4 separate regions of the Homo sapiens genome follow, and regions 1, 2 and 4 are each linked to region 3. The links come from fine-mapping of genetic effects on gene expression. A gene starts in region 3. Each other region holds a variant in brackets. All regions are shown on one strand. Distances are between the middles of the regions.

Evidence for each region.
Region 1: its variant is fine-mapped to the expression of ALKAL2 in lung (TOPMed, PIP above 0.99).
Region 2: its variant is fine-mapped to the expression of ALKAL2 in whole blood (TOPMed, PIP 0.95).
Region 4: its variant is fine-mapped to the expression of ALKAL2 in whole blood (INTERVAL, PIP above 0.99).

Annotation. Positions count from the first base shown.
Region 1 is chr2:190,703-198,804 of GRCh38, reverse strand. No RefSeq gene overlaps it. Among named protein-coding and RNA genes, the nearest start is that of SH3YL1, 69 kb to the left of the region's middle. RefSeq lists an enhancer at 4-1,203. The variant T/C (reference allele first, on the strand shown) is at 4,913.
Region 2 is chr2:425,556-433,657 of GRCh38, reverse strand. It overlaps LOC124907599 (a long non-coding RNA gene), which reads right to left and starts at 5,241. Exons shown (of 2, transcript XR_007086058.1): 1 at 4,727-5,241; 2 at 4,208-4,347. The variant G/A (reference allele first, on the strand shown) is at 3,672.
Region 3 is chr2:284,983-293,084 of GRCh38, reverse strand. ALKAL2 (ALK and LTK ligand 2) reads left to right here and starts at 4,994. Exons shown (of 6, transcript NM_001002919.3): 1 at 4,994-5,072; 2 at 5,193-5,502; 3 at 6,742-6,795; 4 at 6,882-6,962. The coding sequence starts at 5,250. It overlaps LOC101927262 (a long non-coding RNA gene), which reads right to left and starts at 7,156. Exons shown (of 3, transcript XR_007085917.1): 1 at 6,461-7,156; 2 at 2,334-2,407; 3 at 1-937. It overlaps LOC105373346 (a long non-coding RNA gene), which reads left to right. Exons shown (of 6, transcript NR_189079.1): 6 at 1,965-2,144. RefSeq lists a silencer at 5,430-5,479 and an enhancer at 7,220-8,102.
Region 4 is chr2:314,909-323,010 of GRCh38, reverse strand. It overlaps LINC01865 (long intergenic non-protein coding RNA 1865), which reads right to left and starts at 6,727. Exons shown (of 4, transcript NR_146953.1): 1 at 6,266-6,727; 2 at 4,948-5,168; 3 at 1,195-1,329. RefSeq lists an enhancer at 7,767-8,102. The variant T/C (reference allele first, on the strand shown) is at 4,772.

The DNA of each region.
Region 1 (8,102 bases), 94 kb after region 3:
GACTAGAGTTATATTTCTTCTATTGTGGTACAACCTCATTGTTTTTACGGCCATATTATCATTTTATTCAGGAATGTTGAAATGCTCTGAAATATCACTTAGTCATTAAAATGTTGATTACTACAACTAAATGACAACATAGAAAAGTGCTTATGATATATCATTTAGAGAAAATTTAGGATACACGACCTTACAAGCACTATGACAGGAGCTGAGTAAAAGTAGACTACGTCAAGAGGCCGGAAAGGAAGACAGAAGGGAAAAGGCCCCGCGCGTCTCCGTGTCAACAGGCCGGAAAGGCAGACAGAAGGGAAAAGGCCCCGCGCGTCTCCACGTCAACAGGCCGGAAAGGCAGACAGAAGGGAAAAGGCCCCGCGCGTCTCCACGTCAACAGGCCGGAAAGGCAGACAGAAGGGAAAAGGCCCCGCGCGTCTCCACGTCAACAGGCCGGAAAGGCAGACAGAAGGGAAAAGGCCCCGCGCGTCTCCACGTCAACAGGCCGGAAAGGCAGACAGAAGGGAAAAGGCCCCGCGCGTCTCCACGTCAACAGGCCGGAAAGGCAGACAGAAGGGAAAAGGCCCCGCGCGTCTCCACGTCAACAGGCCGGAAAGGCAGACAGAAGGGAAAACGCCCCGCGCGTCTCCACGTCAACAGGCCGGAAAGGCAGACAGAAGGGAAAACGCCCCGCGCGTCTCCACGTCAACAGGCCGGAAAGGCAGACAGAAGGGAAAAGGCCCCGCGCGTCTCCACGTCAACAGGCCGGAAAGGCAGACAGAAGGGAAAAGGCCCCGCGCGTCTCCACGTCAACAGGCCGGAAAGGCAGACAGAAGGGAAAAGGCCCCGCGCGTCTCCACGTCAACAGGCCGGAAAGGCAGACAGAAGGGAAAAGGCCCCGCGCGTCTCCACGTCAACAGGCCGGAAAGGCAGACAGAAGGGAAAAGGCCCCGCGCGTCTCCACGTCAACAGGCCGGAAAGGCAGACAGAAGGGAAAACGCCCCGCGCGTCTCCACGTCAACAGGCCGGAAAGGCAGACAGAAGGGAAAAGGCCCCGCGCGTCTCCACGTCAACAGGCCGGAAAGGCAGACAGAAGGGAAAAGGCCCCGCGCGTCTCCACGTCAACAGGCCGGAAAGGCAGACAGAAGGGAAAAGGCCCCGCGCGTTTCCACGTCAACAGGCCGGAAAGGCAGACAGAAGGGAAAAGGCTCCGCGCGTTTCCATGTCAACAGGCCGGAAAGGAAGACAGAAGGGAAAACGCTCCGCGTGTTTCCATGTCAAGAGGCCGGAAAGGCAGACAGAAGGGAAAAGGCCCCGCGCGTTTCTGTGTCCAGAGGCCGGAAAGGCAGACAGAAGGGAAAAGGCCCTGCGCGTTTCTGTGTTCTGTTACGGGGCTGGGGTGTGCAGTCAGGGTTTTCCTTTCCAACACTTTATATCATGGCTTATTTTCTTAATATTAGTAAAAACACATTAAAAATGAGTTCAAGTAGAAATTAATAGAGTAAGAATACATAACCTGGATGTTCATTTGCTCTCACTTTATCCTTGCAAAACCATCTGGAATTTCTCCCCTGGTGCTTCCAAGGAGATCATAATTATAACGTAGATCCTGGAAAAGACACCTCCCAACGAGGTGACATTTGTGACCCCTTGGATCAAGGTCAGCCCTTACAGTATGCTATTTAAGTACTGAAACACAGTTTCCTGCAAAACCTTCCAAGTCAATATACACATCTGTTGCTTCAAATCATTTAAACAGCCCTGTAAATGTAGCCAAATGTCCTGTTTTAGTGGGCTCTGGCTTGCCCCCAGCAGGGGTGGCTGCAGTAGTTAGTTGAGGTCCACTTGGTCCAGGTTTTTAATTTGTAGCAGTATTGGAAGGGTTATTTAATATAGGAGTTTTAAAGCTATAAAATATATAGCCAAGAAAGACTGAGTTTTGATGTATGCATACAATCCCAAACTCCTTAATACTAAAAATCAAGAGACTAAAACCCTTAAGCTTCTGTTCCCAGGAGATTATAATGGTTTCACAAAAGCTCCCATGTTTCTGTTTAGACCCTGAGAAGGGCTCTTTCCACCAGAGAAGACAGAGGTCCTTGGCCCCACCTCTGAGGTGGGCACAGCCTCACCCAGCCCAGATGGCTCTCACGGCCAGGGCCAAGACACGTCCTGGCTGAAGGCCACCGTACACAGCAGCAGGGCCCCTGAAATATGAACTCAACAAAATTGTAGCATAGAGAACTCCGTAACAGTTAAACTCTGGACACCAAATGAAATCCACCAGGGACAAAAATCTGTTTCAGTAACTACTGCCAACATCGGACTTTCCCCTGCCCTGTGATGGGGAAAAGAGGGCAAGTTAAGAGCCACCCTCCCACAACTTTGAGCTCCAGCAGCCACTGAAAAGAACCACCTTCCCCACATGACACAGACAAGACTCACCAGTGACAGGGCCAGAATCAGACCCTCTGCATTCCCATTTTTGTCCCACAGATGTGTAGCTGAACTGCTTTGACTCCACTGATCTATCTTAAAAAAATACTTGTTAGCCGAACTTCGACTCAGCTTCTCCTCTCGGCCAAGCCCACCCATGAATGCTGCGATGGGGACCCCACCCTCCCCTCCATCTCTTCCCAGTGGGCTGACCCATTTCCTGCCCACTGTCCACTGCGCCACGGGCCCCTCCATGCCTCACCCAGGTGTTCTAGGCTTGGTTACTCCCTCCTCCTAAAACAAAAGTGCTTTTCTGCCTGAGATGCTTGAAGTTCTTTGGGGTCAGAGCATTCACCCTGTGTCATGAAGTCCCCTCCCTCTCTCAAAATGAGAACTTCAGGTAAACTCTCTGCTTAAGCGAGTCTGGATTTGTGTTTCACTGAAACACAGAGAAGACAGAGAGGACACTACACTGGCTGAGAACTACCATACGTCCTTAATAACAATGAACAATGAACAAGAGAGAGGGCCCCACGTTCTGGCAACATGGCGAACCTGTGAACTAGGGAAGCCCTCCCAGCACAGAAAGTGCCAGGAAAATAAAAACAAACAGAACATTTTAAAATTTATGACTGTGTAAGTAGAAAAATAAGGTGAGTCTTAGAGGTATGAATCTGTAAGAACAGGCAGCCTTGATTGGCTGAGGCTGTGATTTTCCCAGAAGGAAAATGTGGCCGAGGCATGGGGGTTCATAGGTTTCACCTGAGGGCGGTGGAAATGGCCTTTGTAAGTTTGAGTCCTGCAAAGGGGACAATTACAGCATGAGAAAAGGGGACAGACCCTCAGGATAATCACTCTGTTTGAATTCTGGTGGAGGGGAAATGAGACCAAAAATATCACTCCAGAGTCTTCCTCAACTCAGTGCTTTGATTTGGGGTTCAATTCATGCTGTCTCTGTGGCCCAGCAAGCCCTAATTCTAGAATGGAAAGATTGGTACCAGGTAGAAGCAAAAACACTCCTCTCTGGGGCAAAACACTTTAAAGAAGGCCTGGGCCACGTTCCAGGCCTTTAGGAGACTCTCCTAGGAAAGTGGGATCTGATTTGCTCCAGTCGTGGAGCCTGGGAAGGTGGTTCTGGGGGAAGGTCGTGCCTTTCTGACCAGCCTCTGAGAGCTGAGTCAAGAAGTTAGAGGAGAGCTGGTGCCTGGTTGGGCCTGGCCAGTAACTCCTGCAGGAACTGCAGTGAGGGCCGACCCTGAGCCCAGAAAGGTTCCCGATGATTAACAGGAGGCTCTGAAAAGTGCATCATTTATTCTTAGCATTGTCAAATTGCTTGACCCAAGTCAGAGGTGATTTTTTGGTTTATTATTTGCAAAGCATCGTGCCTTTACCCTGCAGGGGCCATTTCCCCTCACAAGGAATGCAGCAAGGAGCTTGGAAGCAGACGGCTGTGGGGAAGGACCAGCATGGGTGGGGGTGCTTTGAGAGGAGAGACAGAGGGCCTTTGCCCTTTCACCGGAGAGACATGGTGCCACTAAGAGTTGCGAAGGGTAAAGAATGTGTGAAGACACAGATACCTTGGGGGACAGTTTTTCCTCTAACTCAGGAATGAGGATGGTTCAACTCACACTATTTCAAGCCTTCCAAGTAAACAGTAGTTAGTAAAAACACAATACCTGTCTCTAATATTACTTGCCTAAATATATGGACATATGAAAATGTATCTCAAAAAAATAATCTAAAGAGAAGGAGAAAACTATAATAAAAGGTGTTTATTGCAGTGATAAAAATATCAAACAACAGTAGTAAATGTAAGTCTTGCAGTCAAGCTTTAGGGTATTGTTCAATAATCAAAATAAAATGTTGATTATGTAGCAACACATTAACATGCTTATAATAGAAAGTGAAATAAATTACATACCCGAATATATTCCTAAACTATGATCAGAATGAAGGAAAACATGTCACACATATGATCACAAACTGAACGCGTGTGTGGGAAAATACAGGTACATGGTCTTAGTGTAGAAAGAATGTTAACATTGATTTTTTTAAAAAAGAATTCTGAGGTTTGGGTTCGGTTTTCATTATTGTTTCTGCACTAGATGATTTGTAAAGTTCTAAACATGTAGCCTCTAGACTGATTAAAGGAGCGTGTGACGTGCAGTGCAATATCACAGAGACAGGCAATAACAAACAATAACAATACAGGCTCCTGGGACATTTACAGTCACACATTTGCCCATGTCGACAACAGAAGGTTCTTCCTTTTCAAGCTCCCTAACCCGGGAAGACACTGCTCCTGCTGTAGTGTGACGGGGACACTTTTGGCAGATGTGGTCTCCAGCGTGCTTGGTTTGGTGGTCCAGGAACCGCCGGCTCCATCTTTGCCCAGCTCTCCCTTCCCTGTGTACCCAGAGCCAAACGAAACACCCACAGGGGCAATGGTTAAGAATTAATTTCTATGTGTTTTGTTATCCGT[T/C]AAACACAGGTTGTGAGCTAGCAAGAAACAAGATACTTTTGGAGGCTTAGTGACTTTTTTTTTTTTTATAAAAAGCGACCTTCTCCTCAGGCTTATGGTATGTTCTTAGTTATGGGAAAATGTCTATACAGGCCACAGAAGGGCCAAGACCATGTAAAACTGGAAAGTTACAAAAATTTTCTAAAATAACCCTCTCTTTGCCTCCCTCAAAGCTAGAAAACGTTGGGAGCCAGATGTTTTCAGAAGGGAAATAGTGTCCCCGGGAGGAGCTGTAATTTTGAGCAGCAGAACTTTGCCTCTGTGGCCTGTTTATAGTTGCCTTGGGCTCCGGGTGAGACGCAGCTGGACGGGGCTTCTGGAAGCCTCCAGGCATTAGTATGCACGGTTAAGGATTTAAATTCTTCACAGGCCTCTGCTGGCCCACAAAGGACTGGCAAAAATGCAGGGATGACTAACGGGTTTCAGGGCCGAAAACAGACTGGAGGGTGCCCCACACAGCGCTGCCGGATGAGGTGCAAGTTAGTTTCTGTGTCTGGCTGACAAGTCGGACATGGCCTGCGGCTGCCTCCACAAGCAAGAAAACCTTTACAGCTAATTTTCGTGGACCGAGAACTGGAAAACCCCAAGCTTCACCACGGAATGAACAGACGTCGGCTGCAACATACTCTGTGGTAAAAGTGTTAACATCACGGCATCCTCCCTGGTTTTGCACCATTAGGTTAAAATGGAGAACTTGCTAAGGTGTTCAAAGGGCTAAAGACCCTTGGTGTGGTAACATGTAAAAAGCGCAGTTTTCAGATTTGGGAAGACTTGACTGCCCCATTGACAGCAGCCAGGTGGCCTCCAGCAAATCTCGTTCTATAATAGATCACCGGGTTTCTTCACAGGGAAGGAAGGTGCATTAAAAAATTTAAAGGGAGGTGTTAGATATGTGTTCTTCTTTCTGTGTTAGTCCCTGGCCAAGAAAACATGCCGAATTTTCTTTATTTTTCTTCCATCATAGTTACAACAACACAAATTCTCTCCAGCTTAGTTCTCTAATATCTTCACCAATCACAGATCTGGCCACTACGCTCCATCCTCAAGCCCACCCAACTTTCCCCTGGGTAGCCTGGCAGAGTACACAGCTGTCTGCCCTCATCGAGTGACTTTGCCTCTATCAGTTACGGCAGCGTAGCAGTGGCTGATCAGGGTATGGGATGGGGATTGGGGAGGAGGCCGATAGAAATGGGTGCAGTAGGCCAGGCGCAGTGGCTCATAACTGTAATCCCAGCACTTTGGGAGGCCAAGAGGGGTGGATCACGAGGTCAGGAGTTTGAGACCAGCCTGACCAACATGGTAAAACCCTGTCTCTACTAAAAACACAAAAATTAGCCAGGTGTGGTGGTGTGTGCCTGTAGTCCCAGCTACTTGGGAGGCTGAGGCAGGAGAATTGCTTGAACCCAGGAGACTCTGTCTTAAAAAAAAAAAAAAAAAGAAAGAAAGAAAGAAAAAGAAACAAGTGCAGTGGAACAGAAAGACGAGTGGCTGTCACCGGGCAATGCAGGTAGCAACTTGAAACTGATGAGGGCAGTCCTGGGACGGAAACCAGAGGACCCTCAGTTTCGCTATTATTTTTTTAACCTGATGTCATAAAGCTTCTACTATTCTGGGTAATTATGTCCCAAAGTTGGCAAGCATACATGTGCTTTTAAATTTTTTATTTTATTTTTAATGGTAGTCACAATCATATAACATGAACTTTATCATTTTAAACTTTTCAAGTGAACAGGTTGGCACTGTCAAGTATATTTACACTGTTGTGCAACAGGTACCTAGACTTTTTCATTTTGCAGAAGTGAAACTTTATGCCCACTAAGAACTAATTCCTTTTCTTTTCCCAACCCCCCAGCCCTTCACCTCTCTATTTTCTGTTTCTACAACTTTGACTACTTGAGATACCTCATATTAGTGGAATCATATAGCACCTTCTGTTATTTTGATAATGGCCATACTGAGAGGTGACAACATGCTAGCAGCCCTTGCTGGCTCTCAGTGCCTCCTCGGCCTGGGCCTCCACTCTGGCCGCGATTGAGGAGCCCTTCAGCCCGCTGCTGCACTGTGGAAGCCCCTCTCTGGGCTGGCAGAGGCCAGAGCCGGCTCCCTCTGCTTGCCTTGAGGTGTGGAGGGAGAGGCGCAGGCGGGAACCAGGGCTGTGCACAGTGCTGGTGGGAGGTGGGCACAGGCTCGGCGGGCCCCACACTGGGAGTGGCCAGCCAGCACCGCCAGCCCGGGCAGTGAGGGGCTTAGCATCTGGGCCTGCAGCTGCAGAGGGTGCACTGGGTCCCCCAGCACTGCCGGCCCTCCCGCACCACGCTCAAATTCTTGCGGGTCTCAGCCACCTCCCTGCGGGGCAGGGCTCTAGAACTGTGGTCTGCCATGCCTGACACCCCCCGCCCCACCGTGGGCTCCCGCGCTGCCGAAGCCTCCCCAACGGGCACCGCCCCCTGCTCCGTGGCGCCTGCTCTCATCAACCGCCCAAAGGCTGAGGAGTGCTGGGCGCATGGCTGGGAACTGGCGGGCAGCTCTGCCAGCGGCCCAGGCACGGGAACCACCAGGCGAAACCAGCTGGGTTCCTGAGTCCGGTGGGGACTTGGAGAACTTTTATGTCTAGGTAGAGGATTGTAAATGCACCAATCAGCACTCTGTGTCTAGCTCGAGTTTCTGGATGCACCAATTAGCACTCTGTATCTAGCTAATCTGGTGAGGACTTGGAGAACTTTTATGTCTAGCTAGAGGATCGTAAATGCACCAATTAGCACTCTGAGTCTAGCTCAAGGTTTGTAAACGCACCAATCAGCACCCTGTCAAGACGGACCAATTAGCTCTCTGTAAAATGGACCAATCAGCTTTCTGTAAAATGGACCAATCAGCAGGATGTGGGTGGGGCCAGATAAGGGAATAAAAGCAGGCTGCCCCAGCTAGTAGAGGTAACCTGCTGCAGTCCTTTCCTGGAAGTTTTGTTCTTTGCAATAAATCTTGCTGCTGCTCACTTTTTAGGTGTGCTTTACCTTTACGGGCTGTAACACTCACTGTGAAGGTCTGCAGCTTCAAACCACAAACCCACCCCCGCTGGGAGGAATGAACAACTTCAGACGGGCAGAGCAAACAACTCCAGAGGGGCCGCCTTAAGAGCTGTAACACTTAATGG
Region 2 (8,102 bases), 140 kb before region 3:
GAATGTGAATGTATTTAGAAATAGGCTTTGCAGGTGTAATAAAGTTCAGATGAGGTCCTCTGGGTCAGGGTGGGCCTTAATTCCAGCATGACTCTCCAGTTGTATGTGATAAAAACAGGGAATTTGGACTCAGGTGCAGGGGATGCAGGGAGCCCCACTGTGTGGAGGCTGAGGTGGGGACTGGAGGGCATGTCTACAAGTTGGGGAGCTCCGAGGATGGCTGGCAGCCACTAGGAGCTGGGCAGGGCCTGGAACAGGTTCTCACTCAAAGCCTGTGGAAGGAACCAACCCTGCCAACACCTTGATCTCAGACTTCAGGCCACCAGCACTGAGGGGGAATGAATTTCTGTTGTTTTAGCCACCTCGTCTGCGGGGATTCCTCATGCAGACCTAGGAGATTGATAGAATGCCTGACATTTCTTCTCTAGTAAATGAACGGAGAATTACGGGTGAAGCTGGAGGAGCTATGGATCCATAGCTGTAAAAACGGGGTGACGGGTTCCAGGGAATAGTGTGTGCAACTTATCATTTCATGTTTTCTAATATAAGCAAATAAGCATGTATATTTCTTATTTTCATGGACAAATGTTTCCAATACTTTACATGCTTTTCTTCACCTTGCTTTTTCCCTTAACATATGCTAGAGATATTTCTCACTCATTTTTGTAACTGCATATTTTTATGTTGTGTGAAAATGCCATATCGCTTCCTCTTCAATCTCACACCCAGGACAGAGCCTGGGACAGCCGGGCTGTTTTCTAGCTTGCTTACTTGCAATTCTATTGCAAATTGAGCCCCATACGTCTTCTAGTATTTGTGCTCAGAAGGCTAAATCCCTGGAGGTAGGATTGCTTTTTCTAGAGAAAAATGATATAATATTTCGCCAGATATTGCAAAACTTCCCACTCACACCAGTTTAGCATTTTGCATTCCCACCAGCTTGTAAAAGAACGCCCTGTCTTATAGTCAACAGAAGAGGCTACTTTTTTAAAGAAATGCTTTTATTTTAGTTTAGTTTTAATTGGTGTTTTTCTTGTAATGAATGAAGTTCAGTATTTTTAAAAAAGCATTTCTTTATCTATGAACAGTCTGTTCATATACTTAATGTATTTTTATATGCTTATTGGTCTTTCTGTTCTGTGGTTTTAGAAGTTCTTAATGTAGATGGACTGCCAACCCTTCGTGTGTGATATAACTTGTCAGTCAATATTTTCCATTTATCATTAGCTTATGCTTTTTACCATGTAGATATTTTTCCATATAATGAAACCTACCACATTTCCTCTATTGCCTCTGGATTTTGAGTCATGGGGAATAAAATAATAGATATATGTTTCTGTATAGGGGTTCATCTCCTGCATTTCAATATGATCCATTTGGAAATTATCTTAGGATACACTGTGAGGAATGGATCCAGTTTTATCTTTTCACTAAACACCGTTCCTTATACTCACATGGGAAGGGGCTAGGATTCTCCACGTTCTGAAGAGCTTCTATGCACAGTCTGGTGAGTCCAAGTGTGGCACATGAACATCTCCTGGAGGCTGGCTGGATGTGCAGAACCTCAGAGCCCACCCAGACCTGCTGAACCAGAGTCCAAATGTTAACAAAATACTCAGGAGGTTCCTACATTCGAGAAGATTCAAGTTCGAGAAGGACTAATATTCAAAAGGTAGTTTTTCTTTTGGCTTTCTCCCCAAAATAATAGGCAGATTAAAAAATGAATACTGCCTTCCATTAGCCTCGCCATACTAATACAACACATTTACACCTTTTAAATTAGGGACCTCATGTATTGCATGATGATCGGGTCTTAATGTTTGTATGAAAATCATGGAAGGTGATAAAGATGCCCCTCAGCCTAAGGCTTAGCAAACCCAACAATGACTCCCCTCTCGAATGTGACTTAGACTTGTTTATACCATAATTACTCATTTTTGTTTAAGTTGCCATTTTTGAACTTTATAAACACACTATATTTTATATAGTCTTAAGTGATAACGTTTCACTCAATATTATGTTTCTAACATTTATCCAAGTCATGAATAACTATACTCCATTCTTTTTCACTAATGCATACTACTATACTGTGTAAATGTATTTAAAATATTTATATATTCTCTTTTTATATCCTGAGATGTCCCGATATCTTTCACCGGTATAAATCATTACAAATTATACTTCTAAAAGCAATTCTTTTTATTTATATTTTTCATTTCAAAAGTGTGCTAGAATTTTTCTCAGGTGTGTATTTAGGAATGGAAACGTAGGGTAAGAGAAGGTAAGCAAGCTCAGGTGATCATGCACATTGATTTTTGATCGTGCAAAGGGCCACATGGATTCATACTCCCAGAGTAGTGTGGCAGTGCGGCCCCCAGCCAGCGTCATGCATGGGTGACCTTCATCAGATCAGGGCTTGTGAATTGACATCTATGCAGTCAAATGTACTGACTTTGGTTATCTGATTACTTCACGTTATGCTTATAAAAATTGTTTGATATTTTTAGATTTCAAAATGGTTACTTTTTATGTAATGATTCTATCCTCTTGAATTAGTTACAAATAATTCACCTTTGTGGAACAAAAGACCCAACTTGGAGCATCTTAAATATGTGGAGACTTTTTTTCCCCAAGTAATAGGAAGTCAAGAGATAGACAGTTGGTGGCACTGCTTCAGTCTTCGCTGTGAGGAGACGGATCTTACGGTCACTTTTATGAGCTGGGCTACGTTCTCATGGAGCATTGAGACCCACAGAGTCATGAGAATCAGCGGCCGCCCGAGCCCTCCTCGCCCATTGTGGTTCCTGGAGCCGTCCTCGTAGGATGTGTGTGTGAGGACGTCCTGCCCCACTCTGTTCTTTTAGGTGGTCAGAGAATTTAAGAGAAAAACAGGAAGCTGTTGTTTCTCATGAGATGAAGCCTGTGTGATCCACTAACAATTATATTTCATCTCTATTTTATTTTCTGAAAATTCCTGTTAAACTCAGATAGTAGCTTATCTGACAATTTCAGTTTCCCAGGGGGTGAGTACTGTGTTTTTTTCTCTGTGCCCTCACGTTCGGAGGGATGGGCCATGGCTGGGAGTGGTGCCCGCTTAGGGCCCTTTTGCGGCACCCCTCCCACTCCTGCCTGCAGGGTCACGTCCCCCTGGAGCGGGCACGGTCCTGTGTGCATCTCGTCACCCCGCAGGCTGCAGGATCCTGAGCCCAGGATGCAAGTGAGTCTTATTTCTTCCCCTACATGGTCCAGACAAGAGCCTGGGCTCTGGATCTTTGTATTTAAGTGTGTGGCCAGGGAAACACACAAACCAGGCTGTGATAACCAGACTTCCTCTCTCCAGTGAAAAAAAAAAGCAAAAAATACAACAATTAAAACTAAAATGCATGGCTTGATTATTGAGTCTTCTTTCATCATGGAATTCATTGCTCCTATAGATCATCCAGTGTGCAATAAAGGAACTCACTACACACACAAAAATGAAACAAAATGTTCTCTTGTCCACTAGTTTGATCTGGTTATTATAGCAGCTCTACTTCAAATTTTAAAAAATAGAAATTGGGGGACAGCGATGCTTCCGTGTGCCCTTCGAGCTCACGCTCAGCGCGGCTGTGGCTTCCTGTTTACCAGCGCTTGCCTGGACCATCCATTTGCCGTCTCTGCCACCAGCCCAC[G/A]TCCCGTTCATAAAAGAGATTTCTGTTTACCGCCTGCTATTTAGAGTTCTTCCATCAAAGTTCGATTTGCAGTGTTTTACTCTATTATGCTGTCCTTCTCCTTTCCACCAGCTGTTTTCCCTGACTCAGTGGCGTTCAGATGAGCATGGCTCACCCATGCCCACGTCTTCCTGTCCACCGTTACTGGTGGCTGCTGACCTTGCTCTGCTGTGCCCCTGGCAGGCCCTCCTCAGTGGGGTGGAGGCCCTGCAAACCGGGGCAGGGCTGGAGCCACTGACTAAAGGGCGGCAGGGAGCCGGCAGGTCTGACCCATGCAGTGCTGCTTTCTGCCCAAGAGCACCTGTGTGGCTCAGTTATTTTCCTGTCTTTACCGGCACCTGGCACAACACTTTCTACACCCTTTGCTGAATAGAATTAAAATCCAAATGTAATCTTAGATGATTAGGAGACATGTCTTGCCTAGAGGATGAGTGAATATAGCCCAGTCTATTAGTCTGTTCTCACATTGCTTTAAAAAACAAATGCCGGTGACTGGGTAATTTAAAGAACAGAGTTTTTATTGACTCATAGTTCCACAGGCTGTACAGGAAGCATGGCGGCTTCTGCTTCTGGGGAGGCCTCAGCGAGCTTCCAATCATGGCAGAAGGCGAAGTGGGAGCCGACTTGCCTTTTACGGCTGGAGCAGGAGGAAGAGCAAGAAGGGAGGTGCCACGCACTTTTCAAAACCAGATCTCTTGGGGACTCACTCACTTTACAGCACCAAGGCAGGTGGTGCTAAAGCATTCATGAGAACTCCACCCCCATGGCCCCACCACCTCCCACCAGGCCTCAACAGTAGGGACTACGATTCAACGTGAGATTTGGGTGGGGACACAGATCCAAACCATGTCACCCAGTAACTTCCCTCTGTCCACTAATGCTTCACAGAAATGATTAGCACGGGCCACAGGAGAAAGGCCACATGTGAAAGGAGACATGGCGTGACACTGCATGAACCTTCCTGACATTTCTCTAGACACAGTGGAGATGGAACCAAACCAAAGAGACTAACTCACTGTTCTGATTCCTGCAGTGTCTCTACACCCCTAGTCAGTCAGTGGAAGGACCCGGGCGGGAGGGTTGTCCAAACCCACAGGCTGGGGCTGGGCATGGCTGAGGGGCACGGGCGACCCCGCTGCTTTCCTTTCCACAATGGGTTTGCAGGCTCTGGAAGCAGAGGCACCAAAAAGGTGGCAAAATGCTGAACAAAGCACTGGGACGGAGGGGGCTTGTCCCAGACCTGGCAGGACATGTGGGCAGGCTGGGCCCAAGTGAGGCAGTTTTTCAGGCACTGGACCCAAGCCCAGTACTCACCAGAGAGAGAAGAAAAGGGGCCCGGAGGAGAGTCACCCCAGCCCCTCAGTCTCCTGGTTCACCGAACAAAGAACATGCATTTGCAGGTGAAGCCATCGTTGCTTATTTTTTCTCTTGATTTGAAATGTAGGGATATATGCCTACCTCTGTAATCTCTGATGGAGGCCATAACTTGATTAGAAGTCAATATACAACACAGACTTCCCTCTCTGTAAGGCTGAGCAAGGAAGAAAAATAGCAGAATATGTAATCACATATATTTAACACAGATTCACAAGTTAAATTAGTCATATGTTGTGGCAATGGACACTTAATTCAATAACTAAACAGAAAACAAAACTAAACAATCCTCCAAGACTTAGAAAACGAGCATGAAAAGTTTCTAAAGATGGGAAGTGTGGAAGACGGACAGACCGGGCAGATTTAATCCATAAATCACAAAACCCACAGGTGGAGGGCACAGCCCCCAGGCAGAGGCAATGCCCAAAGACAGCAGAAGACAGCATTCTCTATCACTTTGTCTGTGAGGCATAAACATTTGCCACTTAATCACTGGGTCATCTCCTTGTGGTTTAAATTCACATGTTACTGATTGTTAGTGAGGCTGGAATCTTTTCATGAATGTACTAGCTATTCATTTTTCTCTTCTATAACTTGCCTAATCTTTTGCCCAGTTTTCTATTATGTGTGTTGTATTTTCTTTAAATTGTGACAGTTCATCTATTCTGTATTTTGGGTGGATTAAAGATCTAATATAAAAAGTAAATTTTCAAAATATTTAGGGGGAAAATGATGAGTATCTTCATTAAAAACTAAAATAACATAGTATCTTAAATAATTTATAGAAGCATAAATGTTAAAGTATGCCAATCAATTCAGCTACATACAAATTTATAACTTTTATTTACTAACGAATACCATGAAATGGAAGAACACAGCCTCGTAGAAGACAACTGCGGCTCCCTAAATACCTTCAAAATGAGCACCTGAAGCAAAATGACTGGGAACATGAAAAAGACAATCTCTGGTGGCTGTGCCAGCAGAGCCCCCTGCGTGCCAGCGGAGCCCCCTGCGTGCCTGCGGAACCCCCTGCGTGCCTGCGGAGCCCCCTGCGTGCCAGCGGAGCCCCCTGCGTGCCAGCGGAGCCCCCTGCGTGCCTGCGGAGCCCCCGGCGTGCCAGCGGAACCCCCTGCGTGCCTGCGGAGCCCCCTGCGTGCCAGCGGAGCCCCCGGCGTGCCTGCGGAGCCCCCGGCGTGCCAGCGGAACCCCCTGCGTGCCAGCGGAGCCCCCGGCGTGCCTGCGGAGCCCCCGGCGTGCCTGCGGAGCCCCCTGCGTGCCACCGGAGCCCCCTGCGTGCCTGCGGAACCCCCTGCGTGCCAGCGGAACCCCCGGCGTGCCAGCGGAACCCCCCGGCGTGCCTGCGGAGCCCCCTGCGTGCCTGCGGAACCCCCGGCGTGCCAGCGGAACCCCCTGCGTGCCAGCGGAGCCCCCGGCGTGCCTGCGGAGCCCCCGGCGTGCCTGCGGAGCCCCCTGCGTGCCACCGGAGCCCCCTGCGTGCCTGCGGAACCCCCTGCGTGCCAACGGAACCCCCGGCGTGCCAGCGGAACCCCCGGCGTGCCTGCGGAGCCCCCTGCGTGCCTGCGGAACCCCCGGCGTGCCAGCGGAACCCCCTGCGTGCCAGCGGAACCCCCGGCGTGCCAGGGGAGCCCCCTGCGTGCCTGCGGAGCCCCCGGCGTGCCTGCGGAGCCCCCTGCGTGCCAGCGGAGCCCCAGGCGTGCCAGCGGAGCCCCCGGCGTGCCTGCAGAACCCCCGGCGTGCCAGCGGAACCCCCTGCGTGCCAGCGGAACCCCCGGCGTGCCTGCGGAGCCCCCGGCGTGCCTGCGGAACCCCCTGCGTGCCAGCGGAGCCCCCTGCGTGCCTGCGGAGCCCCCTGCGTGCCTGCGGAACCCCTGCGTGCCAGCGGAGCCCCCTGCGTGCCTGCGGAACCCCCTGCGTGCCAGCGGAGCCCCCTGCGTGCCTGCGGAGCCCCCTGCGTGCCTGCGGAACCCCTGCGTGCCATCGGAACCCCCGGCGTGCCATCGGAGCCCCCTTTGTGCCTGCGGAGCCCTCTGCGTGCCTGCGGAACCCCCTGCGTGCCTGTGGAGCCCCCTGCGTGCCTGCGGACCTGCCAGGGAACTATAGGGTCACCCATCAGGACTCTCATGCATGAGATGGGTTATCTCATTTCACCCATGCACTAAAGTAGGAAATATGCTTTTTCTATTTCTCACAGGAAAGAAAGACTTGCAAGGTTTAATATCACTTGGACAGATGTGGGTAGCGCCGGGGCTCCAACCCTGCTTGTGGGTCTAGAGCCCGTGACACCATCCCGGAGGACGCCCGTAGGGCCCCTGCGATGGCAGTAAGTAGGGCCCCAGAAGAGGCTCCCCAGGCACATCCCTGTCTTGTTTCCCCTGGTCACTTGGTGCTAAGCCGGCACGGCGCCCTGCTGAGTGGGATCCCTACCATGAGAGAGCAGCTGGGAAGGACGACTTGGGTTCAGCTCTGAGGGAAAGCAAAGGCGAGGAGCAGAGGCGAAGCCTGGGCCCCGGAGTGAAGAGACCAACCTCAGCGTCAGCCGCACGCTGGGCCACAGCCATGCCAGGTGTAGTCCTGGGCCCACCTCAGCCATACCCACCTCTTGCCTTGGAAATGGAGGCAGCTCTCCTTTATTTCAGAGCGCTGGGGACATCGTACATCATTCCAACATTTCTGTCACTTTTTTCAGTAGCACCCCATGATCAGACACAGCCTCGTTGTCCTTCAGGCTGGCCACTTCCCAAGCCTTGCAGAGACTGAGAGAATGGCATCCGAAAAACTAGAAAAGCACATTTCATTTTCATGTTCCTTGATAATGTAATATATTACAACAAGTCATGGTGAGAAAATTTACATTCAAGCATGTTCAACTTTGTTGTGTGTTCTTCTACAACAATCAGGGGAAGAGTGAATTTTTAACATTGCCTTTATGGCCTCAGGCTTCTATAATTTGGCTCAGTAAAAATCTGTTACTTTTAATGATTGAGTCTTCCACTCCAT
Region 3 (8,102 bases):
TCTGATGCCCCAGACATTCTCTAGGATTGGATAATGCTCTCTTTCATGCCATATTGTAAGGGATAAAATACAGGAAAAAAGAGGCCATTATGACAGCAGACACTCTGAAAGGCAGTAATAGCAATAATTGGTCAGTTAAAAGAAATTTAAACTATACTAAAAAGTTAACATACTTTATCTTATTTAATGTTTATAAAACCTCTGAGGTTGTACGTACTCCTGTCATTTCCGACATGAAAAAACTGGGCTCAAAGAAGTTGTCTTGCCCAGGTTCACACAGATGTGAGCAGGAATCAGAACCTGAGCCCATTTCTGTGGCTTTGAAGCCCACGTCCTTTGCAGTCCGCTATGCTGCATTCTTGAAAGAAAGTGGAGTTCAGGTGAGGTGACTCTCCATCTGTTCCTCCCACCCTCTTCCTACAGCCCAGTCTTCCCAGCAGATCCAAGAGGTTCTGGGGCCTCCTCCTTGGAAGTTTGCATATGCAGTTCCCTCTATCCAGGAGGCATCCCCATCACTGTGCTTAGCTTATCCTAGAAACAAACAACAACCCACTTTGGTAGGTGGTGCCTTTATGACACTTTGGATGTCTCTGTGATGAACCTAGATCATTGTGTGTGTCACTTCTGATCAGGATATCTGATTTCCTGCAGAAAACAGATGGAATGCAGATATATTGGTGTTGTTACTCAGCATCTATGACTATATTTTGTTGAAATATTGTCATGGATAATATTTTTCTGATATGTTGATGATTGGTGTGTTCTTTCAAATTTATTCTTACTACTTCCATCAAAAGATGTCAGATTGGTGCCTCCAAATGGCAAGTAAGCATCACAGTGGTTTCAGAATTTATAACTAAAATCCAGTTTGAAGGAACAACGTAAAGTCCATACTTCCTTTAAGCCTTTCCCCATGAAAAGTCCTCTTTATCTTGGCCTGGAACAATAAATTTTTTAAAAAAGTAAATCAGCCATGCTATCTTATCCCAACCCTTTAAATACAACTTTCACCTAATTTCTCTCCTGAACATGCATAGCCGTGTGCATCTGCAGATGCAAAAGCAGTGTTGAAGAATGGGAAGGGGTGGATGACCATGTTTTTGGAATCATCTTCTTCCTCCCTAGAAGGGGAGAAGTGTTACATAGAATGCTGTACTTCATTGATCTAGAATAAGCTGCAGATATCATGCATACATTATCACTTGTAAGAGTCTATATTTATTACATTTATACTAGGAAAATTAATCCTGTTAGAAAGCTTGTCTTCCTAAATGCTTTAAACACTGTCTAGTACGTGCCTAGCACACTAATAGCATTTTGATAGCTTAAAAAAGCAGAATTGGTAAATATTAAACAGTAAGCAATATTTGTTTATAGTACATGATGTTATCCTTTATGAAAGGTGATTTTTTTCTACAATACAAACTTCGTTAGATTGTTAAATGATTGCCATAATGATTGAAAAATATAACAATTCATTTTAAAGCATGTGGTTAACACAGGTATTTTAGAAGTCTTTGAGGGCAGCTAATATTCATCTAAAATTAAATACGTACCCTCTGGATGAAGAAAAAAAATGATTGCAGTCAAAACATCAGAACTTTAACCTGTTTATGAATTGAAAAAATCAACTCACCCATCTCAGGACCTATATATAGTACTGTTAGGGTAGATTAAATACAGGTTTTTTTCCTCTGCTCGGTTTTCTTCCTATGATCCAACACAGTTTTCTCAAAAAGATAACCAAACTAAATCAAATCTAGAAAAAAATTTTTCCAGTAATTCTAGAATATAGTTTGTTGCTAATTGTATCTCTTTTCTTTTTGGCTTCCTGCTTGAAAAGCACGGGTTTGAAGGGGTCCACTTACATATTTTTTTTCAAACGTGGGTCGAAAACACAGCAGCTGGAGGATGCGAAACGCACACAGAGGGAGGGCAACTTTCCGTATTTGCGTGTTCCACAGGCCCCACTGTGAGACGTGAATGTGCCTGGATTTCGGTATCTGCTGGAACCAGTCCCACGCTATACCAAGGGATGACTGCACACCTATTTCTGATGACTGGAGAACTCCAAGGGGTTCGTCTTGACAATACCATTAACTTAAAAATTCAATAAAGATTAACAAATCGGTGGTACACTCTAAGTTTGTTAGTCTGTAAAAATTGTTTCTATAATATAAAATGAGCAGCACCTAGATAATTTTGGCAGAGAACTTTGTAAAAATAAATGAACACATAAATTGTCTGACTCTTAATTGTAAGATCTCATTAATCCAAAGACCAACCAAGCATCAGCTCTGTTGCTGTTGATTATCCACCAAACCTCTACTAACCTGGGCGGAAGTCTTGGCCCACACTTGGATGGTAGAAAGGGCTCATTCAAGGAATCCATTTGTCCCATTAAAAACTGCAAAAGAAAAGACATAATATTAATTACTAGCAAGGCTTCCTCGGTAGGTAGAATTTGTGTGTGTTGGGGGAAATAGATCCTACTAGCATTTTATAGAAGAAATTTAGCTTTTGATTTTATAAAATACTATTCTAATAGGTCTATGTAAATTTAAAATAATACGTGAAATGTGTTTTCTTCTTTTTACCATACAAAGATTTTTTTGAAAAACTGTCTTACACCAAGCTATTTTACAACAGTAAAATCTTCTCATGGTTCTATTTTTCTGGGAACTGCGGTGTCCACCAGCTGCGAGGTGGGCCCGGCAAGCAGGACCGGGAGCAGGGCCGGGGAGGGCCGGTTCCATCGCCAGGCGTCGCTCTTGCCCGTGGAACTCAAGTGTCTTCTTGGACATGGGAAGGGGAAAGAGAGAAACGAAAAATGCCTCCTTTTATGTGCCTAAGGTCTGTTTGACATAAAATTTTACTTTTTCCTGAGTGTATTTTAGCAGAAATGTTCACATTTCAGTCATGTAGCTTGCAAAAAGAAAAAGAAAAGCCTCGCTGTGAAATCAAACCATCTGTTTTTCAAGGGAGCGGAGAGAACGCAGATCCCAAGGGTGTGGGGCGGGGTCCGGAACCGGCACATTTCATATCTTCTCTCTCCACGCTGCCTCCCCGCCCAGCTCTGCCGGACACTTTCTCCTCCTGAGGAGACAGACCCCGTGCAGGAAGAGAGAAAGGACGCGGGGACGGGCGCAGACGGGGCCTCTCCGGGAGCTGGGGGATCGGGGCGCGGAGCCTTCCGCCCGCACCGCCCGCGCTCACGTGCGCCTGGGCCAGCACCTTCCCGCCGCGGTCCTGCGACTGCCCCGATCATGGTGCAGGCCTTTAATTCTCGCCCACTCCGCCTCTCTGATTGCACTCAGAACACCTTTCCCAAACAGATCGCGGACTTGGAAGACGTCCAGCTCTTGCCCAGAAAGCACCAATCGAATGGGAAAGTGCGCAACTGATTGATAATACATTTTACAAGAATAAAATAAAAGAGGCAAATTGCTGAACTTTCACAGATGTGCCGGGCTTCGGCCAAAGAGCCAAACTTTCTTAAAGACGAGTCCGGGAGGCAAGTGCCCTCCTGCGGGCGTTCCCTGCCGGGGCGCGAGGGACCCGCGGGCCGAGGGTCCAGCGCAGAGGAGCGCGCAGATGGCGCGGTCCTTGCCGGGGAGGGACCTTCGCTCGTCCTCTCGCAGGGGGTCTGGGGAGGGGGTGCAGGTCCTGCCCCTCCTCGGGTGGTCAGCTGTGCGCACCTCGGGGGCCGTGGAGAGTCCTCACCCGCCCATCTCCTGCCTCCTGGCCGCCCCGCCTCGGGGACCAGGGCTTGGGGACCCGAACCTGGGGACTGGGCTCGGGCGGGGCAGACCCCTCGAGGTCCGGAGAGCGGATCCCTCCAAAACGGATGGACTCTAATTGACTTATTAAATGTCGAAGCAATCAGGCAGCTCCCTTTTTAATAGCCCAAGATCTACATTTAGACAAAAACAGAACCGAGTTCCTGGTAAAGGCGTTTCTTCTCATCCTGTCACAAGTGACAGGAACGGAGGGAAACAGACTGGGGGAGGGGCGGGGGGAGGAGAACAGGGGGAAGAGGAGGAGACGGGGAGTGGGGGAAGGTGGGGCAGGAGAGGAGGAGACGGGAGATGGGGAAGGTGGGGAGGGAAGGGGCGCGGGAGACGGGGCGCGGGCGAGGGGGAGACGCGGTGGAGATGCGGGTGGGGGGACCGGGCGGGGGCGGGGGCGGAGTTGAGGGGGAGCGGGAGACGGGGGGAGGCGAGAGCGAGGTGAGGCGGGGGGACTGACGAAGATCCGCATGGGGGTACTAACACTTCAGCGGCTTCTAATTAAAGCCCCGCTCGGAGCCCTTGGGGACCCGCCTGACGTCGGCGGGCGCGGGGATAAGAAGCTCCCCGAGGTCTGAGGCGGGACTCGGAGCCGGCGCACCCCAGGTCGGCCGTGGGTCCAGCGCTCGGAGCGGCCGAGTCCCCGCGTCCCGTGCGCTCCGCCCGCCGGGCATGGAGTAGTGGCGCAGCTCGGGGCGCGGGGACAGACGTGCGCACAGACGGCGACGACTCCGGCGGCTCCAGGTAACCGGCCCGGCCACGACGCGCAGGTGGCTCCCGGGTGGCGCCGGGCAGGTGCGGGAGGGCGCCATGGCCGGGAGGTGGAGGGGCTTCCAGCACGTGGCGCGGCCGGGGCCAGCGCGAGGGTCCGCACCCGGCCTCCTCCGTGGGCTTCGGGGACTCGGCGCTCGCCGGCGACCACCGCGCAAAGGCGACGCTGGAAACTTGAGCGCGGCCGCCGGGCCCGGCGCGCGGCGCCGCCTTCTTGGAGAGCGGTAGGCGCGGGAGCGCGGCCCCTCCGAGGTCCGCCCGCGGCCGGGGAGCTGCCTGGCACCCGCGGCTTCCAAAGGGGAAAGAAAGTTGCGCCCGCGCCAGGCGCAGCGCGCTCGGCGGACGCGGCCTTTCGGGCGAAAGTTAGGAGGGGCCGGGCTGGCGGGCGGGCGGGTTCCGGGGGCTCCTTTCCGCACCAGCGGCGGTCGCTCCCCGTGGGCGGGACCTCGGGCGTGATCGTCGAGGAGACCGCGGCTCCCTCACCTGCCGGCTTGTTCCTCGGGGTCCGCGGAGGTGAGGGGCCGGGTCCAGCGCCAGCGGCTCCTCCCGCCTCCCCTCCCCTCCCCCGCCCCGCGCTCCGTCCCCCTCCCCCGCTGACTTTCTCTCCGGCCCCCCGCGCCCCTTCTCTCGCAGCGAGCCCAGCTCTCGGCGCGTGTCGGAGTCTCCCAGCCCCGCGGCCCCGAGCGCACGATGCGCGGACCCGGGCACCCCCTCCTCCTGGGGCTGCTGCTGGTGCTGGGGGCGGCGGGGCGCGGCCGGGGGGGCGCGGAGCCCCGGGAGCCGGCGGACGGACAGGCGCTGCTGCGGCTGGTGGTGGAACTCGTCCAGGAGCTGCGGAAGCACCACTCGGCGGAGCACAAGGGCCTGCAGCTCCTCGGGCGGGACTGCGCCCTGGGCCGCGCGGAGGCGGCGGGGCTGGGGCCTTCGCCGGAGCAGCGAGTGGGTGAGTGGGGCCGAGCGCGCCCGAGGGCCGGGGCTGCTGGGAAATAGAATTGTCTTTGAGAAACACGTTTCAAAAAGAGACATCAATTTTGACCACTGAACAGCAGGATTCCTTTTTTTTTTTTTTTTTTTTTTAAGAAAAAGAAAATAGCAGCAATAGGTCCGCGCATGAGGCCTGGCGGAGAAGCGCCTGGTCTCCTTCTGGCGCGCGTGAGCTGCGGCGCGGGTCGGTGGTTTCCACACTAAACTGTCAACCGTCACTTTGGAAATGGAAGCATTTCCAGCAAAGCTTTCCCAACTGAAAAGGAAGCATCCAGGCTCCTTCATGGCCCTGCCCAGAGTGGTGGCCCACGGGGAATTTCCCAGGAAAGCATGAAAGCGTCTAATGCTTTTGTGACACAATCAGGTCAAACATGATAAGGTCAGTTTTATCCCGGCTGCGTCAAGTTAGGAGTGAATGAAGACTCACTAGGGGGTCAGCTGTGGATGCGAATGCTCCTCTTCAGAGGGCGTGACTTCACACACAGTCGGGGCTCAGCCAGGAGCCCTGAACGGGGGAGTGAAGATGGAGAGGGCTGTAAATACGCAAAAACAAAGCTGAACTCAAGAAGAACGCCCTTGCAGGGTTCTCCCCACCCACTGTGTGCGGAGAACCCTGGTGGAAGAAGTTTGCTTGGCAGAGTCTTTCCCTGGGATTCTTACCCTACAAACCAGGTTCATGCATATTCCCACTAATTTACACCTCACTGAAACGTGGTCTTTTAATCCTTACTCTAAATATGTATCTAGATAAAGTAATGTTCTGTAACCCATTTTTTTGTTTGAAGGGTCAGGTTTTCTCTAAAAACTTTGAAATGTTGTGGGATTTGATTCCCAAGGTCCTTAAAACTAAAGTGCCTAAAAGTGACTTATTCACTGGAAGTTAAATGTTTAAAAGAAAAAAAAAACAGTTTTCTTACCTCTGTAACTTCGTGGTCTCTGTCTGCATCCCACGGGGTAGACAGCCGACATAATCCTGGAGCTTCAGGAGCAGTTACTGTTATTTCAAGGAAAATAAATGTCCCTGATATTGAGTCTTCTTCACTGTCGTGTGTTGCAATCCAGGGCCCCAGTCTTTTTTATTTTGTGCAAAGCAACTTGGCTAATATGGAGCTCCAATTTTCTTCAACATTCACTTAAGATCACATTTTTAAAAAATGCGTCCTTCAGGTAATATAATACTTTCTTTTCCCTGAAACAGAAATTGTTCCTCGAGATCTGAGGATGAAGGACAAGTTTCTAAAACACCTTACAGGTAAGTTTTCTCCTCGTTCCTCACGTCTCCCAGAGCTCCTTTTCACCTGTGAGTCTTCATGATCTGTTTCTTCTTCCGTGTTCCAGGCCCTCTTTATTTTAGTCCAAAGTGCAGCAAACACTTCCATAGACTTTATCACAACACCAGAGACTGCACCATTCCTGCATGTAAGTAACAGCATTGGATTTTTATAAAATGCAAGAGCAGTGCAGGCAGCGGTTCCCCTCTTTCCATTTCCTCATATAGGCCCCTGCCTTCTTAGCTCAAATTTGCCTATTCCTTCCTCACTATGGAGTTAGGGGCCAAGATCGCCAGACCATTGCAGAAGATAACTAACTTCTGCATCAGCTAACGCCAAACTGGAAATTATTTACAGTCATTGGAATAATAGGCTCTTGGGATGGGCTGAACTCCGATTCTCCTCCTGTTAATTCTCCTCCAATGCCCATGTTTGTGTGTACTCTACTATGGCAGTCAGATGTTAAGAATGAGTTGCTAAACTGACTCCAAGAATAAGATTGACCTGGATCATCTCCACTGCTCTTACCAGAGACTTTTTCTTCCCATTGGTAATTATAACCTCATCACCCAGGAATTTCATTGTGATTTCAAAACTGTTTCTCTGGCTGGCTCCATCACTCCTTCAGAAATGCAGAGCTGCCCTTATCAACATAGCTCTCAGCAGTAGCTTTCTCTCCTGTTTCTTTTCAGTCTTCCTAACCTGCTTTTGGCTATTTATTCATAACAAAACATTTTATTTCTCCAAAAGTAGCTCCTTGTTCTCTTCACTGAAGCCTTATTAGCTACAGTGATAGGGCCCTAACCCATTTTTTTTAATTCGGACTCCAACTTTGATTTTATTTAAGGCTCACAGGAGAAAAGTCATGCAGAAACACTAGGCATCCTGCTAACTGCTGTCATCAGGGCTCTCCAGCTGGACCAGGCAGCGTTCCGGACTTGCTGTCCTGCCTTCCCTCTCCAAAAACAAACAAACGAAAAGCCAATGTACACGAAGTATAAGTGCTTTTCTTTGTTTAGGCAGCAAAATTACTTCAAATAATAATAACCATCATTTATAGAGCTGCTTCTGTGTGCCGGGTGCATGCCAATGAACCTTGGCCCACTGAAGTAGCGTCACCAGCGCGTTTTGGACAAGGCTAAGGCACATGCACTTTTAGCATTCACATCACCGCACAAAGATGCATGGAACGCAGCCTCGGCCCCTCTGACCATACCTTTAGCAACATCATCCTCACGCCAAGGCCAGCAGCACACACTTCCTGAAGAGTTTTTATATTCTTGGTGCT
Region 4 (8,102 bases), 30 kb before region 3:
AAAGGCCCTCAAGTGTCTGGCCTTGAAGCATCTAGAGACTTCAAAGAACTGACTGCTGAGTGGAGTGTTCCTGGGAGGCCGGTGACATGAGTGGTGACAGGCCAGGTGTGGGTGGCGAGTTTACACTGCCCGGTGTAGCTTAGAAAAGGGAAGGGAACATGAGCGTGTCAGCAGGGTCCGCAGGGTCCTGCAGCAGGAAGACAGTCTTCCCATAGCTGATCACCCCTTTAAAGTAGGTTTGCCACTCCATCTTGAGATTCTCATCCTTCTCACCAGTTTCCCAAAGTAGCAACACGTTTTCCCTATCTGTTTGCTTCATGTGATCTCAAAATCAAAGTATCACATGCGCAACGCCCTTCCTTCTGCATGCTCTCGACCAAGAGCTCCCTGGAGCAGGGCAGTCCTGGTGAGCCTGCCCTGTGTCTTACAGCGGTATTTATAATGGCCAATCCTCAGGATGGGCCCACTTTCCCACGCACCCTCCTTGTCACATGGCTCCTCTCGCCTCTCTTGCCACCCGGCTGCTTCCTGGAGGTGCAGCAAGTGAAGGTGGGCGTGATGACTGAGACAGGTTTTATACTAATCTTTTTAGATCCAAAGTAAATGTGTTTTAATGTCTAAACATTAATATTACTTTAGATGCTTAATATACTTTTAAATTTATTTTATGGCACGGCTACTAGCCTGAAAGAGAAACACCACACTACCTGCTGCATTGGAAAAGAGGATAAATTACTACCAATTGTTCCTTTAGGTCAGACACCAGGTTAAACATTTTTCATTTATGAGCTAACTTCATGTACACAATTACCCTACATGATAGGGACTCTTGTTCCTGTTTTGCAGACAAGGAAGCTGAAATGTAAAACTTGCCTAGGGTCACATAGTCTGAATACAACTCTGGGATTCTGACTCCAAAGCCACATCCCTCCTGCTCCTCCCCACCTGCCCCACTCACATCCTTCTGTCCCCCTGAGCGCATCCTCTGCCATCCATGGCTTCCTTCTATCTGGGGACAAAAAAGCCTCTCTTTATGCCTGGCCAGACATCGCAGATGAGTATGGTAAAAAATGACCTTATACATCACAGTTGACCTTTTTGCATGATTTGCCATAGGTGGAGTGGGTGGAACCTGTACACACATTTCCATCTTTCACCTGTGGGATTCAAGAACTGTAGAGAACAGTGATTTACCCATGCTTTTTGTCAGTAGCAAAGCTAGGATCGATCTGCTTCTCAGTCTCCGTCTCTGTGATCACCCACAAGCCAAGTCCTACTCCAGCCACACACAGGACACAGGCATCCACACAGGGGGCAGAGCACACTTCCCTGAAAGCAAATGGTGTAAGTATTGGTATGTATCGCCTGAATGAGACTTTTATGCAACTTATTTTACCTTATCTTTTCAAATCCAAAGTAAGTGTGTTTTAATGTCTACACATTAATATTATTTTAGATGCTTAATATACTTTTAAATTTCTTTTGTGGCATGGCTATCAGATTGTCTATAAATATAGGTTAAAATGTTCTACCAAAAGTATTATTACGTAGGCCATGGAACCTCATGAATTGTCTCAACTCTTGCCTAAAACGTCAGCGCTGGGTGATTTCCCAGTTGCAGGGACTCTGTGACTCCGATAGAGCTCTGGGCTTTTGGGTCCATGTCACTGGGGTTCATTATCCAGCACCCACGGGTGAGCGGGACCCTGGGCTTTCAGGGTCATTTCACTGAGATTCATTATCCAGCATCCACGAGTGAGCACGACCCTGGGCTTTCAATGCTGTGTAACTGGGGTTCATTATCCACACCCGCAGATAATATATCTGTGTGTCTCGGGCTGTGCTGGTCACCAGAAAAATGAGAAGTGAGATGGGATCCTTGTCTGTTGAGGGCTCGGGGCTGAGTGGAAATCTATCCCATTTAGCCTGGTCCATGGCTCCAGCTGCAGACATGGTCCCCGTCACTGCAGATGGAGCGGAAGCTGACATCTGTGCTGCAGGACAGAGCATCTCCACATGGGCTACCTCGCACTGGCTGTCAGGAAGACCTGAATGTCTAGAGGTTTTCTCTCCCCAGTCTTTTTCTCTCTTGCTGTGGCCTTTGCCTTTCTCAGCAATGTGCAGAGCTTCTGAATTGACAGGCTTAAGAGATGAATATGGGTCTAAGCCAGCAACAGTTTTGATCGCCCATTGTGACTAACCTCACATCACCTGATGACAATTTCCACAGCAGCCTCTCCAGAGCCACTTCCGAGAAGGATGTGGTCAAGATCAGCATCCATTAGTTGGTACCTACAACCAGGCAGGTACAATTCAGATGTCACATTGCACCCAGGACCAGCAGGCTAGGTTTGACTGGGGCGAAAGCATGAGCCCCATTGACTGGGGTGAAAGCATGAAACCTCCCTGTGAAAAGCGCTCAGAGATGAAGAGAGGATGTGGGGAGCAGCCCATGGCAGCTGGCATCACTCTGTGAAGTCAGGAGGCACCTGCTCATCCAGGAATACAGACGCAGTGCCCCAGGCCCACCAGGCAAACCAAGTTGGAGCAGAGATGTAGAAGCCTAGGGAAAAAATGTTTTCTGCTTTTGTTTCTTTATTTTACGTGATGATAAATGGGGGAAGAGAAAGAGTGGCCCAAGTTTATAGAAAAGAGTTGGGATTCCTATTACTAAAGGCTTGCTAATTCTTTTTTCTTTCTTTTATAAAAAAAAAATAACAATCAAACTTTTAAAATATATCCATGGATGGAATGAAAGGTACAAAGCGGTGCGGTAGACAGTTTCTCAGCACACCTCTACGTGGCCAGCCCCTCCCTGGAGTCACCACGGCACTGCCTGGCGCTTTTCCTCCAGACCAGGCCTTGCTCGCTGAATCCTAAACCCAGGAAGAGCATCCCAGGCTCTAGGTCCTGCCGTAACCAGCATGGATCAGGAGTTCCCACCGGAAATTTACCTCTTAAAAACTTAGCAGTGAGCTGTGACCACACCACTGCACTCTAGCCTAGGCGAGAGAGTGAGACCCTGTCTCAAAAAAAAAAAAAAAAAAAAAAACTACACTAAAAGTTTTCCTTCCCTGAGCTCTCCTCCTCCACTGTGTAGCTGAGAACTTTGAACATGAAGGAGGCGGTGACCCCACCTGCCTTTAATTAAAAGCTCAGTCCCACCGCACAGCACCCTTAGACAACAACTTCTTCAGGATGTTTGAAGTGTCAAGTCCAATCTAAAATGGAACCCGCATTCTAATCTCCGTTTCCTAATGAGCACATGCTGCGTTGACTGCACGTGAGGTCCAAGGTGAAGGGGGTGTGGGCCCCGGATGTGCCGGCTCAAATCAAGCAACCCTGTGGCAGGTGTGGGGAGTGGCTGTACCCCTCCAGCCTCCCTGCAAGCATAGCACCGGCTGTTTACATCTTGGTGCTGTTCTGTCACTTACTAAGCCACCAGGGGAGATGAAACATTCTAGCTTTGGTGGTGCACAAGTGAGCGCCAGCTGTTTACATCTTGGTGCTTTCTGCCTGCACACACGCCCACACACACACGTGCCCGCACACACGCCTGCACACACCCGCGCACACACCCCCACACACCCGCACACACGTGCCTGCACACACGCCTGCACACACCCACGCACACACCCACACACACCCACACACACATCCGCACACACGCCCACACACACACACCCGCATACACGTGCCCAGGCACACACGTGCCCACACACACGTGCCCCCACACGTTTCCGCACACACCCACACACACGTGTCCACACACACACGGCCGCACACATGCCTGTGCACACACGACACACACACGCCCACACACGCCCACACACATACGCCCACACACATGCCCACACACACGCCCACACACGTGCCCACGCACACAGCCGCACACACGCCTGTGCGCACACACAGACACACTCACACGCCCACTCACATGCCCGCACACACATGCCCACACTCACGTGCCCACACACGCCCACACACACACGCCCACACACACGCCCGCACACACAGGGCCACACACGACACGCACACACACCCATGCACACACGCCTGCACACACGCCTGCACGCACGCCTGCACACGTGCCCGCACACACACCCGCACACATGCACACCCGTGCACACACACCCGCACACACACAACCACACACACACACACACACATGCCCAGCAGATGTCTTCTACTAGCAGGGGAACGTGGGCAGCGAGGCCTGTCTCCTGTGTTCCTAAAATGTGGACACACGAGGGCACATCTTTGCCGGCCTCCCTCGCCACTCAGCCACGTGGGCTCAGCAGCGAAGCTCACCGCCTTCACTCACATTCACACTCGCGTTTATTGAGAGCAAGTGAATAAACGTGTTCTGATATTGCACTGTAACTGGTTAGTTCTTTTTCAAAAAGAGGGATAATTCAGTATTTTATTATTTCTGCTTATTGAAACAGGCTCTTTTTTGGCTGACACCAGATTGTACAAGCATCTGCTTGTTGCTCCATTCCGAAAGCAATGTGAAAATCTGGTTTCTTAGTTTTTCCTCATATTATCACTATTACAACCATGGCTTGGATTTCAGATTCATGCATCCCTAAGCTTGGAGGTCCATGTCTGGTGAAGCTGATTAGCTGCAGGGCAACAGGAACTGGATCCTCGGGGATAACAAGAAAGAACCAGTCTCTTTAGAAACACAGAAAAACTTTTTGCCAAAATGACAGACAAGTTCTCCTGAAACTGAGAAAGTGTGTGTGTCACCCTGACACCACATCCCGTC[T/C]CTGACTCATCAAGTGTTTCTCCTGCAATCCCCCTGTTGAAAGCTGGTGCAAGGGGCTGTGAGAAGCTGGGAGCCTCCAGGCGAAGCCCAGCTCCTGCCAGACCCTGATGCAGCCGTAACCATCACAGCACCATCGCGGCAGCCCTGACCTGGCCAATGTCCTTCCACCCTCTTACCTGAACCCCAGTGTCCGGGCCGGGACAGGAGACAGACTCTCAGCTTCCGGTCCTTAGAAGCTCCCTTCTGCTTCCATATCCAGGTCATTGTCACACAGTACAAAGCCTCTGCCACCAGCAGGGCCGAGAGCTGCGGGCTCTGATGTTCGTCCCATCATATAAATGTGTTCATCAAACTAAAGCCTCAGACTTTCCTCTTTTGTGTGGGCTGACAGCTCTGACTGTACAAGAGAAAACGGTTTTGCCAAAAAGTGAAAAATACCATTTACTTGGGAGAATGGTGAGTCATTCTAACTGAATTTGCACGGAGCCTGCAGGGGTCCTACAGGACAGAGGTCAAGGAGGTCATGCTGCCTGCCGGGGTCATGTGCTAATTAGTGGAACAGCTGGGACCAAAACCTGCCTTGAATGAGGCGAGCTGTGCAGAGCCGCTGGGTCAAGACCCGGCTCCACCGCGCTCAGGAAACGAGTCTGCATCTCTCTCGCCGCTCAAGCGCCGCCTCCTACAACACTCCTCCCTGACTCAGCTCGACAAAACTCGTCCATTTTCCACTATTCAGGGAGTTAAATTAAATTTCTTATCACTTGTTTCAGCCACACTGGCCCATGCCGGGCAGCTCAGGACCATCCAGGCCTCCCTCAGGCCACCTACATTCAAGTTTCCGAGGATGCTCTCAGACCAAGGTGGGCGGTGACCCTCATGCACCCCCTATTTCCGCCCCATAACCATCTATTCAGCAATGAGACAAAAATCCCATCTGAACTCTATTCCATAATATGCAAAGCATATGCCCTAAGTTACAAGCGCTATTCAGTTTTCATACAGGAAACACTGTCTGGGTCCCCATAACAAATAGACACACTCTGGGCCTACCCTGTCTTTTGGTGAGTGCTTGCTGGTTGTCCTAATAAGAGAATCTTCCTCTCGGAATATTAACTGCTATTTTTATTAATGAGGCTCTTCTGAACAGTCTTTCTGCAATAACCATTGTAACACTGTTTAAATAGCTTTTTGTGTTAAGACAGGGCCTTCAATATCACCTAAGTAAACCATTTTGATTTAAAGATAATTAAAAACCTTTCTGATGGAAAATTTTCCCCAATGTCCTGTTTAAAATTTCCACTCTTGGTCAAATGAAGTAAATGAATTGATTTAACCATTAAAAGTATTTATTGAGTATCTGCCATGTTTCAAACATTCAGCTAAACAGAGCAGTCTATCAGAAACACAGTAGGTGCATTCCAGTCTCACCACACAGCTTTGCTGACCCCACAGCCCCCCAGGTGCTTGCTGGCATCCTAGCCTGTGGGCACTGACCTGCTGCCATGGCCAAAAGCCGCGTATCCTCAAGAGAACACGAGAGAGCATTGCGAGGGATGCATTCTTGGGAGAAGGTGAAGAACACCGCGAGGGACGTGCTAGAAGCTGCTGGCCTGTTTTCAACCCACAGCCCCAAGAGCCACTGGCTCGAGACTCCTGGGCTGAGGGGCCACGGGGCCACCCCTCTGCCTTCCCGCACCCTGCGCACTGCACGGCTGTCCACTTTGCAGCCTTGGTTGCACTTTCTCCAGCTACTTGCTGTGGAAACTATAATAAAGTTTAGTCTTGAAGGCACTGGGTAACCTCTGTTTTATGGTTTTTAAAAAATCATTCCTCTTCTTTCTCCTCTCCTCAATTCAAAGACACCTGTTTCATGAAGACCAAGTGAGAAAATTAGTTAAGTGTTAAATAAATGCATGTAGAAACTGTATTAGTCTGTTTTCATGCTGCTGATAAAGACATACCCAAGACTGGACAATTTACAAAAGAAAGAGGTTTAATTGGACTCACAGTTCCACGTGGCTGGGGAGGCCTCCAAACATGGCAGAAGGCCAGGAGGAGCAAATCACGTCATACGTGGATGGCAGCAGGCAAAGAGAGAGCTGTGCATGGAAACTCCCGTTTTTAAAGCCATCAGATCTCGTGAGACCCATTCACTACCATGAGAACAGCATGGGAGAGACCCACCCCTGTGATTCAATCATCTCCCACCAGGTCCTTCCACACACGTGAGGATTATGGGAGCTACAAGATGAGATTTGAGTGGGGACACAGAGCCAAACCATATCCAAGAACAAATACACTAAAAGCCAAAACCAAAGCAACCTCTAAGCCTGACAAGTCAGCTGTCCAGGGGCCACTGCCCCCCCACACCCAGAGAAGCTTCCTGGTGGCAGTGAGATGCCTCCAGGACAGGGGACCAGAAGACAGGAGGGTCTGGCCACGGTGGTGAGGGACCCCCAGCAGGTGTCTGGGCTGCAGACAGACGCCTCAATGTTTTCAACTTGGGGAACAGAGCCACACCGTCAAGAGAGACAGCCTTTCACTCACTGCAGCCAAGCCTCTCCGTACCTTCCCAGTCAGCAGCAGTTGTTTCAAGAGATTTCGAAGAAGAAACAGGTTCGACCTCGATGCCAGCTCTACACAGCAGTGACAGAATAGCCCCAAGGTTTAGTCACCTAAAGCCAGTGAGAGAGGAAGTACAGGCGAGCCCCCAAAGCTCCTGTCCAAATGGACAGAAACCTATTTGTCTTGGTTGCCTCCTGATCCCGGCCTCAAACGGTGCTTTGTAATCTCTGTGTTTTCTTTGGATTCACTGAAGTGGGGGATTGTTACGCATTTGTGAGCTGCACTAAATGCTACCTCTTTCAGTAACAACTCTCCCAGGATTAAAGACGATAAAAAAGCCACTGGCTGGCAAGCCCCCAAGCTGAACACAGACCTAGATGTGTATCACCCTCCCCACAAGTTATTTTTTCCACCGAATTAAATTCCAGATGTTTACAAGCACAGATACCTGTGTTTCTCTGGTCAGAAACGTGATGTGGCCCATTGTGTGGAAGCCCAGAGAGGCGCTCGGAGGCCCCCATATCGTGACGCTAAACGCGGAAATCCAGTGAAATCATCTTTGCGAAAAACTGGCTCACTTTGCTTTTTAAGATGCGGTCGTGAACGGGAGCTAGGGCACCTCCGTTCCCCGCGAACCGAATCCATCTCAGGTCCTTCTAGTCGGCATGGCTGCGTGCCCAAACACACCCAGGGTTAAACTGGGGTTCCGCCGCCTGTCCCGTAATCCCACACGGGGGACTTTACGGAGGGCCCACGCCTGGCCTCC